Linked DNA regions of Homo sapiens: region 1 is linked to region 2. Evidence: fine-mapped expression QTL. A gene starts in region 2. The other region holds a variant in brackets. All regions are shown on one strand. Distances are from middle to middle. Region 1 overlaps ITGB1-DT (ITGB1 divergent transcript). Region 2 holds the start of IATPR (ITGB1 adjacent tumor promoting lncRNA).

Region 1 (5,381 bases), 43 kb before region 2:
CAAAGTGTTGGAATGACAGTCATGAGCCACTGCACCCAGCTGTGAAATGTTTTTAAATGTAAAAGTCAATGGGAAAAAATCCATGATGAACAAAATATTAACGTCATAAAGAAAGGCAGGATCTGCCCTCACGCTTGCACGGTGGAGCCTCTCTCATCTCATCCCGTCTTTGCCTGCCCCAACATTGGCTTAATGGGGACTGAGCAAACCAAGGCCCACCCCGCCCCCTGTAGCTGGGACCCTTACCTCTTGTTACCCTTGACTATAGTTTCTTTAACTTCAGAACACAACCAAAGATGCTTTGTTGGATTTTGGAATTCAGAAGGCTTGTTTAACACTAGGTTTGAACCTTATTAATTTCCTACTTCAGTGATTCTCTGCCAAGTCTTTTATACTCCTCTCAAGCTCTGTGTTTGATTAGAATACTTTCATTCCTTGAACTCAGACACTTCTTGGAGGGGGATCTTGCTGATTAGTTTGATGTCATGTGGCCCTGTCAACATTCCTTCATCTTTGCTGTTTTTTTTTTTTTTTTTTTTTTTTTAAATACCAAATGAAGGTGCACTTAGGTACGGAACTCTCTCTCTGGGTGGTGCTCCTTCCCTGGTCTCCTGTAGGGTTGGACCGGAACGCTCTCGGTGTTCACTTCTAGGGTCAGAACACATCTGGAGCAGGATTATGAAGCAGCATTTCCCCTGCAATCTGTCAAACTCGCCAACAACTAGAGAAATCACCCTGATTCCTGAGAGAGATTACCAGGAAGCCTTTTTCAGGGGCAGACGGGGTTATTTTGCCAGTGTAGCAGAAAAAAGGTAAATAACAGGTGTAAACCAAAAATAAAATTCTAAGCCTCCAGAATGACTAAATGGATCTCCCTCTTGGCCGAGGCATTCCAAAGTAAACCTGAAAAACTAGTTCAAGCTGTGATGGGAAGAGGGGCTTGTTGGATAGACCTCCTTATGCCCTCCTCCCTTTGGAATTCAGGCTCAACTGACCAGGGTTAACATTAAAACAGAGATCTTAGGACTGACAAAGCAGACTCTTTGTAGTGGGAAGACACCAAATTCCAACCTGACTCTAGTATAGCATCATAGGACAGATGGCAGGCCCTGAAAGACACTGAAGTATTTTACTCCAAAATAGATTTCTTTGACATCTTTTTAAATGGCCCTGAAAAACTGTCTTTTGTGAGGAAATCTACATTCTGTAGAGAATCCTCTTCCCTTTCTAGGTCTTTACCTCATCTGGGAGATATTTAACTAAGGGTTCGGCAAGTTTTTAGGTCTGATAAAAGACATTTGTTCTCTATTCTCTCTACAGCCTAGAGGCTTCATTTGCATAATGAAATCCCTGGTCTTCACAACCCCTTATCTTAACCTAGAAGACTTTCCTTTCTGTTGATTCCAGGTCTTTGGATAATAACTTAACGCTTTCAACTGATTGGCAATCAGAACATTTTTGAATCCACTATGACCTGGAAGCCATACCCACTCTCCCAGCCTGTCCCCCACAACTGCTTCCAGACCCAACCAATGTACACCTTACATGTATTAATTGATGTCTGCCTACAACTTCTGTCTCTCTAAAAGATATAAAATTAAGCTGTAACCCAACCACCTTGGGCACATGTTCTCAGGACCTCTTGGGGCTGTGTCACGGGCCTTGGTCACTCATATCTGACTCAGAATAAAGCTTCTGAAATATGTCACAGAGTTTAACTCTTTCCATTGACACAGGTGAGTTTGTGTTGCCCACTGCTTGTTATGTGTTACAGTAAGAACGAGATGATCCATTTGCAGAGCTTTGCCTTTTCTGTGGCCAGGTGGGCAGCTGAAGAGACTTGACATGTAGGCCAGTCATTCCATCTGTTCCCAACTCTTTCAGCCTCCTTCTGGGATCCTGTTTTTCCTGCCATCACCCAGCTGAACCCAGACTTTATTCTTTTATAACACACCCCCAGCACACAAATTTATGCACCTACACCAAATTCACTTGCCAGCCACCTCGTTCAATAGCTGTGAATATTTCTGTAGCCTCTTTCTTTTGTGAACTGCAAATAATGACCAGCCTAGTCTCTATGGTTATATTTAGGGGGAAAAGATTCTCTGTAGTAGATTTCTTTTATTAATTAATGTTCTATTTTTTCCATTCACTGATACCCTACATTTTATAGCTTCTAGGAAAATTATACTTGGTACAGTACTTTGACCCTAAATGTGTCCATGTGCAGGAAATAGTACAGTAATTGACACCCAGTTAGTGTTTAGTTAATCGTAGTTCTAAATTATGTGTCTAATGAAGAAAATTTGGAAATCACTTTGCTTAAGAATAAGGAAGTTTTGCAGGGCAAATGTATTAGTCTGTTCTCACGCTACTAATAAAGACATACTGGAGACTGTGTAATTTATAAAAAAAGAGGTTTAATGAACTCATGGTTCCTTATGGCTGGGGAGGCCTCACAATCATGGCGGAAGATGAAGGAAGAGCAAAGGGACTTCTTACATGGCAGCAGGCAACAGAGCTTGTGCAGGAGAACTCTTGTTTATAAAACCATCAGATCTCGTGAGACTTCACTCCCTATCATGAGAACAGCATGAGGGTAACCACACCCATGATTAAATTACCT[C/G]CCACTGGGTCCCTGCCACGACAAGTGGGGATTATGGGAACTACAATTCAAGATGAGATTTGGGTGAGGACACAGCCAAACCATATTAGCAAACATTTGAGCAAATGTGCTATCAACATTAAGAAGACCAACATCTAGGAGGCAGCACAGAGCTAATGCAAGAGCATTACACTTGGAGTCAGGATTGCTAAGAGCTCCTTGCAGATCTGCTACTGGGTGACTTGCAGATCTGCTACTGGGTAACTTCTCTGGGCCTCAGTTTCCTCATGTGTAAAACCAAGAGGACTGGCAGAAACACTAGCGGAGAGCCCTTCCGGCTCTAAGTCTGTGACACTTTGATGGCTCTTGTTCCTGGATGAAGGGACACCACTGGGAGAAATTTCTTCCTCCATAAGTCAACAAATTGGAATTAAAGTGCCTATGATTCCCTCCGTGAAGTTCGGTGCTGCCAACGATCACGATTCTCATGAACTCAATAAATTGTGCAATATTCTGGAAACAGCTGCCTCTCAGGGGTGGTGTTTAAGTCATCCAACTGGGAAAACAGAGGACACAAAATAATCGTAAAATGGTTTCAGGGAGACATAAGACTGACAGAAATAGAATCCCTGCTCTTTCTGGAATCGAACACTGCTGTTGCACCACAATTTCTGTGAGTTGGACCTAAAAGGAATGTCTTTACTTTTCAGGACTTGCTTTTTGTTCCTTAAAGAGCCAGGGAAATATGAAAGCAATCGATTTCTTCAGAATTCCAAAAGAAAGATATTGCTGTTTGCAAGACAAAGAAAAAAATTAAATGGAGATGGCAGCCTGTGTGTGCTGTTCCCTTCAGCAACGAGCAAACTGTGACCCAATTTGCAAGCCCTTGCAGGTTTGCAGGGTAGACCCTGGCGCTATCTCTTCCCATTAGTTTCTCTGGCAGTAGGACTGGCTGGGAGAAATTGGCTCAGTAGTACATCAGTAGTTATATTACACAGCAGCTGTGGAAAATTATTAAACTAACAGAGAGACAAATGGCTTGGGAGAGAATAAAGTTAGCAAGTCTGGAAACCCCCATTACAGTACATTATGTTGAGTTCCTTCTCCCTCTAGATTAAGACCCTGGTTCCTAAATGAGAATCCAAATTACAGCTAAACTTACTTTACTTACCTGTCTTCTTTTAAATTTGTTTCTCATTTTTCTTTGGCCAGTTAGAGATCATAGAACACTGTCCCATCTTATGCCATTTCTTTCCTCTTTGGTCTTGGACCATCTCTTCCTCTGTGCTGTCACTGGAGATATACAATTACACACGTTCAATCTCATGTGTTCCTCATACACACACACACTCATGTGGATACCCTGATATTCACTCTGCACACACATGCTCACATGCAAACACACCCTGTCTCACACACACTCATGGATGTGCACACACACTTTTGCACAATTTTTTTTTTTGAGATGGAGTCTTGCTCTGTTGCCCAGGCTGGAGTGCAGTGGCAGGATCTCGGCTCACTGCAACCTCCACCTCTCAGGTTCAAGTGATTCTCCTGTCTGAGCCTCCCTAGTAGCTGGGATTATAGGCTCGAGCCACCACGCCCAACTAATTTTTGTATTTTTAGTAGAGACAGGGTTTCACCATGTTGGCCAGGCTGGTCTTGAACTCCTGACCTCAAGTGATCCGCCTACCTCGGCCTCCCAAAATGCTGGGATTATAGGCATGAGCCACTGTGCCCGGTACATTTGCACACATTTTTGAGACTCCAGTGTCTGGGCTCTGGTTGAAAGGCCACTCTGAATTTTTTTCCACTCTCTGTGGTAGTTGGAACTATGTCTACTCCCAAGAGTTCAGACCACTCTGTTGAGAGTTCAGCATGTTTGTAAATGTAATTGGTTTATTAAACGGTATGAATTTAGTGAGAAACACACAAGAAGTATTTATTTTTCCTCCAAATGCAACCTTACAATATGTTCTGTTGAATCTGCATTTCATTTCTCTTAATGATAGGTCCCACAGCTTCTCGGTTATAATGCGGTTGGGGACCAGGCGCGGTGGCTCATGCCTGTAGTCCCAGCCACTCAAGAGGCTGAGGTAGGAGGATTGCTTGAGCCCAGGAGTTTGAGGCTGCAGTGAGCTATGATTGCACCACTGCACTCCAGCCTGGGTGACAGAGGGAGCCTGTCTCAAAAAAATAAAATAAAATGCAGTCGGGTCCAGATCAAAACTTAAATTTCTGGTCAGATTAGTGCTCATGTCCTTCTCCAAGAGCTGCCAGGCACGGAGAGTCTTGTCTAGAGGAGAGAGGAGTGGTTGGCTTTTTTATTTCTTTCACCTTCTGCTTATAGCCGCTGTGTAGTTGACATGAAACAAAGTGATTAGAGAAAAGGGACAAATGCTTTTATTTAGCTGCTGTTGTTGGAGCTCTCTCGGCTGTTTTTTTTTTTTAGATGGAGTCTCACTTTGTCGCCCAGGCTGTAGTGCAGTGGGGCAATCTCGGTTCACTGCAACCTCCACCTCCCGGGTTCAAGCAATTCTCCTGCCTTAGCCTCCCAAGTAGCTGGGACTACAGACACCTGCCACCATGCCCGGCTAATTATTGTATTTTTAGTAGAGACGGGGATTCGCCATGTTGACCAGGCTGGTCTTGAACTCCTGACCTCAAGTGTTCCGCTCACCTAGGCCTCTCAAAGTGCTGGGATTACAGGCTTCAGCCACTGCTCCCGGCCTTTCCTGGCTGTTGATGTCTGTAGATGGAGGCATCAGAAACCTGA
Region 2 (5,381 bases):
AGATATTTCTGTAGCAGATTCTTCTGCAGCAACAGCCAGAGACTGGTTTATTGTTTCAGTAGGGAAGTAGGTATCTAAGTCAAAGGTAAGATGGGGCAGATATGCAGATTGTCTCCTCATCTATTTACGAGGTAACCTTTTTCTAAAGCCAGAAAAAAACAGCTAATCGTTGCATCTTCTGGTTGAGGTGGTAAACAACTCAGTTATCAACCGGCAGAGCATAGCTGTTGGTTTATAATTCAAGTCAACCGTGCAGGAAGGAGGGAAGTAGAGGAGATGCAGTTTCATTTCCCATTAACTCCCCTGACCTGAATTAAGGTGGGAACTGAGGAGAACATCTGTAAAAATAACAGCATGCAAACTGTACAAGGACAGGGCCATGCCCAGTTAACCCGCTGTTTGAGGTCTAAATACTTTTTGGTTATTGTGCAATATGAGTAAAACATCCTCAGAGATGAATCATAGCTCTAGAATTTTAGATTATCACTGCATATGACAATATAAAAAAATCCATGCTCCATTACACCAATTTAATAAAGCAATGTGGCATCTACCTGCCTGAACACCAAAGACACGCAACCTTATGAAAAGAAAAAAAAAATCCAAATATTCATTCTTAGAGAATCACGATTTCATTGACTGGATCAGTGTCGGCTGCCTTCAGTATAAAAACAGGACAACTTTGAATATATCAGAGACTCTCCAAATATCATCATGGAGATTTACTAGGAGCCTTCATAAATATAGTGAGTAATAAAGCAATTTCTAGGGACTATATAGTAATCTTGAATTCTGTGATTCATATAAATGTGAATTATTAATAGAAAATAATCAAAATGATTTAATAAAAGTACATGTGTTCACATAGAAAGGGGGAAGAGAGGCCGGGAGTGGTGGCTCACGCCTGTAACCCCAGCACTTTGGGAAGCTGAGGCGGGTGGATCACGAGGTCAGGAGTTTGAGACCAGCCTGGCCAACATAGTGAAACCATGTCTCTACTAAAAATACAAAAATTAGCTGGGTGTGGTGGCCTGTGTCTGTAGTCCCAGCTACTAGGGAGGCTGAGGTGGGAGAACCCCTTGAACCTGGGAGGTGGAGGTTGCAGCAAGCCGAGACCATGCCATTATACTCCATCCTGGGAGACAGAGTGAGACTCCGTCTCAAAAAACAAAAGGGGGTGGGGGGTGGGGAAGACAGCACTGCTTAGATATTAGAAAAAATCTGAGATTTCATTGCTTTTTCTATAAGTTATAAGGTGATACCATGGAACTGTGGGCAAGTCCCTCAACAATCTAAGCTTCCATTTCTTGATCTCCAAAACAGTGGCACCGAGGTTTGCCTTGCTTACTGCCTTGAGAAGTTCAGGAGAGACAGTGCTTGTGAAAGTGTGAGTCAATTACTATTTGTTTTCTTGCATGTGGCTTGTAAGGAAGTCAGATAACATAAGAGAAGTGAGTGACTGAGTGTTAAAGTGAATTACCAAGGATGCTGGAACTTGAAATGCTTTTGTGTGTAGCAATGCAGGCCGAGCTGCCACGTGCTATCCTGTGTGTCCCCGCTCTCCCCGCGTTGCAAGCCCGCAGAATGCCCCGCATCCACTGAGCCGTGGCCAGCCCTACGGTGGGCAAGCCTATCAAGCGCAAACATTGGGAGGGTTCTGACTCTCAAGTGTCTTACAGAAAATAGAGCCAGGAGCTCCATCTGGCACTCCATTTGCTAAATGTCCCATTGATGTCAAACGCCAGGAAATGTGGCTGTTTAAAATCCCAGGGAATAAGATTTCCACTCAGCAGCTTTCTAATGTACGCGCAGCACTCTGCGAAGCAAAAGCCCTTGCTGAGCAGTCTGGTCACAGCCCCTTACACACAAGCTCTCTGGGCCTCCACTAAGAAGTACAAAGACACAGGGCAGAGGAAAATGGACTTATCAGCTCCAGTGGCTTAAAATATGCCGGATGCCAATAGAGGGCACTGTTGCATATCCACAAAAGCCCACGCTCCGCAACCTAGCAAGACCACCAAAGCACTCACCTCCTTCCACACTCTGGCTGCAGTCCTAATGATGAACAGGAGCGATTAAAGTGGCAATCCCACAAAACACGGCTTCTGGTCAAAGTTCATGACTGCTTCATCACCACTTTGATATTTGCAAAGGGGCTTCATGATCATTTTCAGTCCTGAGTCATCTCCAGTACTTTTCTGCAGAATGCTAGATCTCTTAGCTTCACTTTTCAGAAGACTGAAATCCAGAGAGGTTAACTAGATGACTTGAGCCCATTCAGTCCAGAACTAGACAGAGATAGAAAACTCAGGGTTCCTGAATTCTACGCTGGAGAGTTTTCAGAACGGTGCATTGCGAGCTTTGAATGAAAAACATCAACAGCCTGCATCCGCTCTTGACTCTTTAGGGGAGGTTGTATGGCTTGGTGATTAACTGGGACTTCACAGGCAGGACTCCTGTCCCCACCACCTCCTAATTGTCGTTTATCCCAGTGGAAGTTGATAACTGATAACCAAACCTGCAAGTGAGGCCCATTCTGCAGCCCAAGAAGGAGTTAGGGAGGGATAGGAAACAGACACATAAAATCAGGCCAAATAGTGAAACTGATTGGAGTGCTTTGGGGTATCAATGTTGTATCCTAATTGTCCTTTATCACAGTGGAAGTTGATAACTGGTAACCAAACCTGCAAATGAGGCCCATTCTGCAGCCCAAGAAGGAGTTAGGGAGGAATGGAAAACAGACACATAAAATCAGGCCAAATAGTGAAACTGATTGGAGCGCTTTGGGGTATCAATGTTGTATCCTTCAGCGATCCCTCTCAACTATTAGTTAACTGAGAACAGATTGCCCCGAACTTGGGAGCTGTCAGATCTGTTTCTTGCACTCTCCCACCATTGACCCCTGACTCCTACAGAATCTCATTTTGCATCCCACATTCTGAAGGCATTGAATCATTTTTTTTGGCTAAGCACATGTTGGCTCTGGAGTCGCCTATATACAGAGTCTTTGCTGCTGCATTTGAGGCCTGGTGACATGTTATATTATGTAATGTTCTGGCAGTTAAGGAAAACTCACGCCCTCCCTGTTATGTATGAAGTGTCATCTCTAAAGCAGAGACTATTTCTTGCAAAATGGCATTGATAAATGGATAAACGAAACCAACTGACAACATCCCCGTAACAATGCAGTATCCTTCACTGCCAGTTTATTTCTAGAACACCATTAGGCAAAAAAGAAGGCTTTGTGGCCTAAGTAGGTGTTTTCATATATTTCGGAATGACAAATTAAGACGACAAGGATTTTCAGTCAGGCCATGACAGTAAATGTGCGCTTGTCACTTGTTGTAATGCTGTCCGGCAGGCCATAAGGGCCAGGCTTTACTGCATGGCACATTGGGGAGCCAAATCTCTCTGGTGGCATCTTTCTGTCTGGCACCTCACTCAAGTTAGAAAACTCAACCTAGAAAAGACTGTTGGTCCCTACATGGGCAAGTGTTACTTTCGCTATTACTAAACCCTGTGCCAGTCTTGGGGCAGTCGGAAAGGGTGGAGGAAAACAGGGTGCTTTGATGGCTCTGGCCTGGTCTCAAGTGACACACCCTAATCTGAAGGGTTTGTGCCCACATCCTCTCCGCTGCAGCTGGGTGGCTGTTGGCAATCACCTTTGCAAGCACTTGTGTGTACCATGCCAGCGGTTGCTCGTGCCAATTAGAACTCAGCTGGATCTTGATATAAATGGGCCATAGGCTAATCGTTCTGGGATACATCTTAAATTAGTCTGAGAGAGTCAGAGACCACTGTAAAACCATTTGGCCCAGAGTTTGTGCAAGTTTCTCTGATCCAAAATGGCACCTTGGTATCCAGCTGTCTTGGATGCAGACAACTCTTTCACCTCGGGTCATCATCAAATGCCAAACACAAAAGAAATCCTAACCTCTCACTTTACACAAGAGGAGGCCAAGGCTCAGAGAATTGTAAAGACTTGCCACCAGGTTGTGGCAATGTGCAGTGAAGAACACAGTCTATTTCTGGCATCAGAAGGGCTCAAGTTTGGTTCTCCCAGGCACTGTTTGACAGAACCTCCCTGAGTCTTGGATTACTTTTTGTAACCTTCTGAGTTGTTGAGCAGGTGACATGCAGGAACACAGATATTTTAGTGTGCCCCCAATTGCCTGGGATACTGGTTAAATATGCAGATTTTTGGACCCCTGGCCCCCACCAGAGACTTGGATACAGTTTTTCAGGTTTGTTTTTTGTGGAACACTGTAGGGACAAATGGGAGTGTTTGCTGTGTCAGTGGCACAGCCTCTGATCCTTGTTCTATTCACTGTTCGCCTTCTAGTTTCAGCTCAGCTGTAGACAGATGCACTCCTGAGAATGTGACTGAACTTTACTAAGTAGGAATCACTGTAAACCTTATTCACCATCTACTCCACCCCCACCACTCGTCTTTTCTGGGTCACTACTTCTCCCTTGCGTCTAGTCAGCATATAGAAATAAAGATTGTGTCTACCTTTATTATACCCACTAGAAGGCCTGACATAGAAAATAAACGTGAGCCCATACCTATTATAGAGAGCAGAGGCCATTATGCCTTAACTTGCTATGTTCTGTTGCTACCATAGAACTGGACAAAGATGGAACTTTCATTCTAGTGGCTGGTCCATGGAGATATTCTGTGGTATTCAAAAAATCTTGGGGCATCTTTAGGGTCTAACACTTCCATTATTCATGCAATGTGACGCACTTGTATTTGGCATTTAAGTATACATGCATGCAAATATTTTACCTCAAACACAATGGTACTAAATATATTTTTATTTCTAATTCTGACTACAACCAATTTTCTACCATTTTTCTAGAACCAGAAAAATCAAAGTCAATGAAAGTAGCGAGAAGAACATTCACTGTGTAGTTTTCTGTTGTGCCTACAATCTGAGTTATTTATTTTAAAATTACATACTTCAAAATATTCCAACCCTGCCCAAACACTTTATAAAGACTCAGCTTTAAAAAAAAAGTTCTGATTTTGTTTACTGAAAAGGCAAAATTACAATCAAGGAACATTGGAGAGAAAATAATCTGCTATTCAGACACATCAGCTGATTTTATTCTTTTCAATTTTCTTTTTGTCCTTGTCCATATACTTGCAATTCAAGGAGGTTTGTTTTCTAGTTTCAGCTCAGCCATTAATAAGTATGATCCTGAGAAAGGAGCTTAACTTTAATAAATAGGAATAAACGTTTGTCTTATTGATGCCATTGGGTAGTTGTGGGGATTCAGAAATAAGGCAGGTGAAAATGTTTTGCATACTATAAAGTGCCCTAGATGTCAAAATAATTGTTATTTTGATCTAAGACTCTCATTTCATGACTATATCT

The links.
Region 1: its variant is fine-mapped to the expression of IATPR in whole blood (INTERVAL, PIP 0.93).

The regions. Positions count from the first base shown.
Region 1 is chr10:33,071,086-33,076,466 of GRCh38, forward strand. The region is part of intron 2 of ITGB1-DT (ITGB1 divergent transcript); the gene reads left to right. IATPR (ITGB1 adjacent tumor promoting lncRNA) reads right to left here. Exons shown (of 3, transcript NR_160030.1): 2 at 3,777-3,898; 3 at 2,941-3,161. Among named protein-coding and RNA genes, the nearest start is that of IATPR, 43 kb to the right of the region's middle. RefSeq lists an enhancer at 4,844-5,345. The variant C/G (reference allele first, on the strand shown) is at 2,627.
Region 2 is chr10:33,114,441-33,119,821 of GRCh38, forward strand. It overlaps IATPR (ITGB1 adjacent tumor promoting lncRNA), which reads right to left and starts at 2,367. Exons shown (of 3, transcript NR_160030.1): 1 at 2,031-2,367.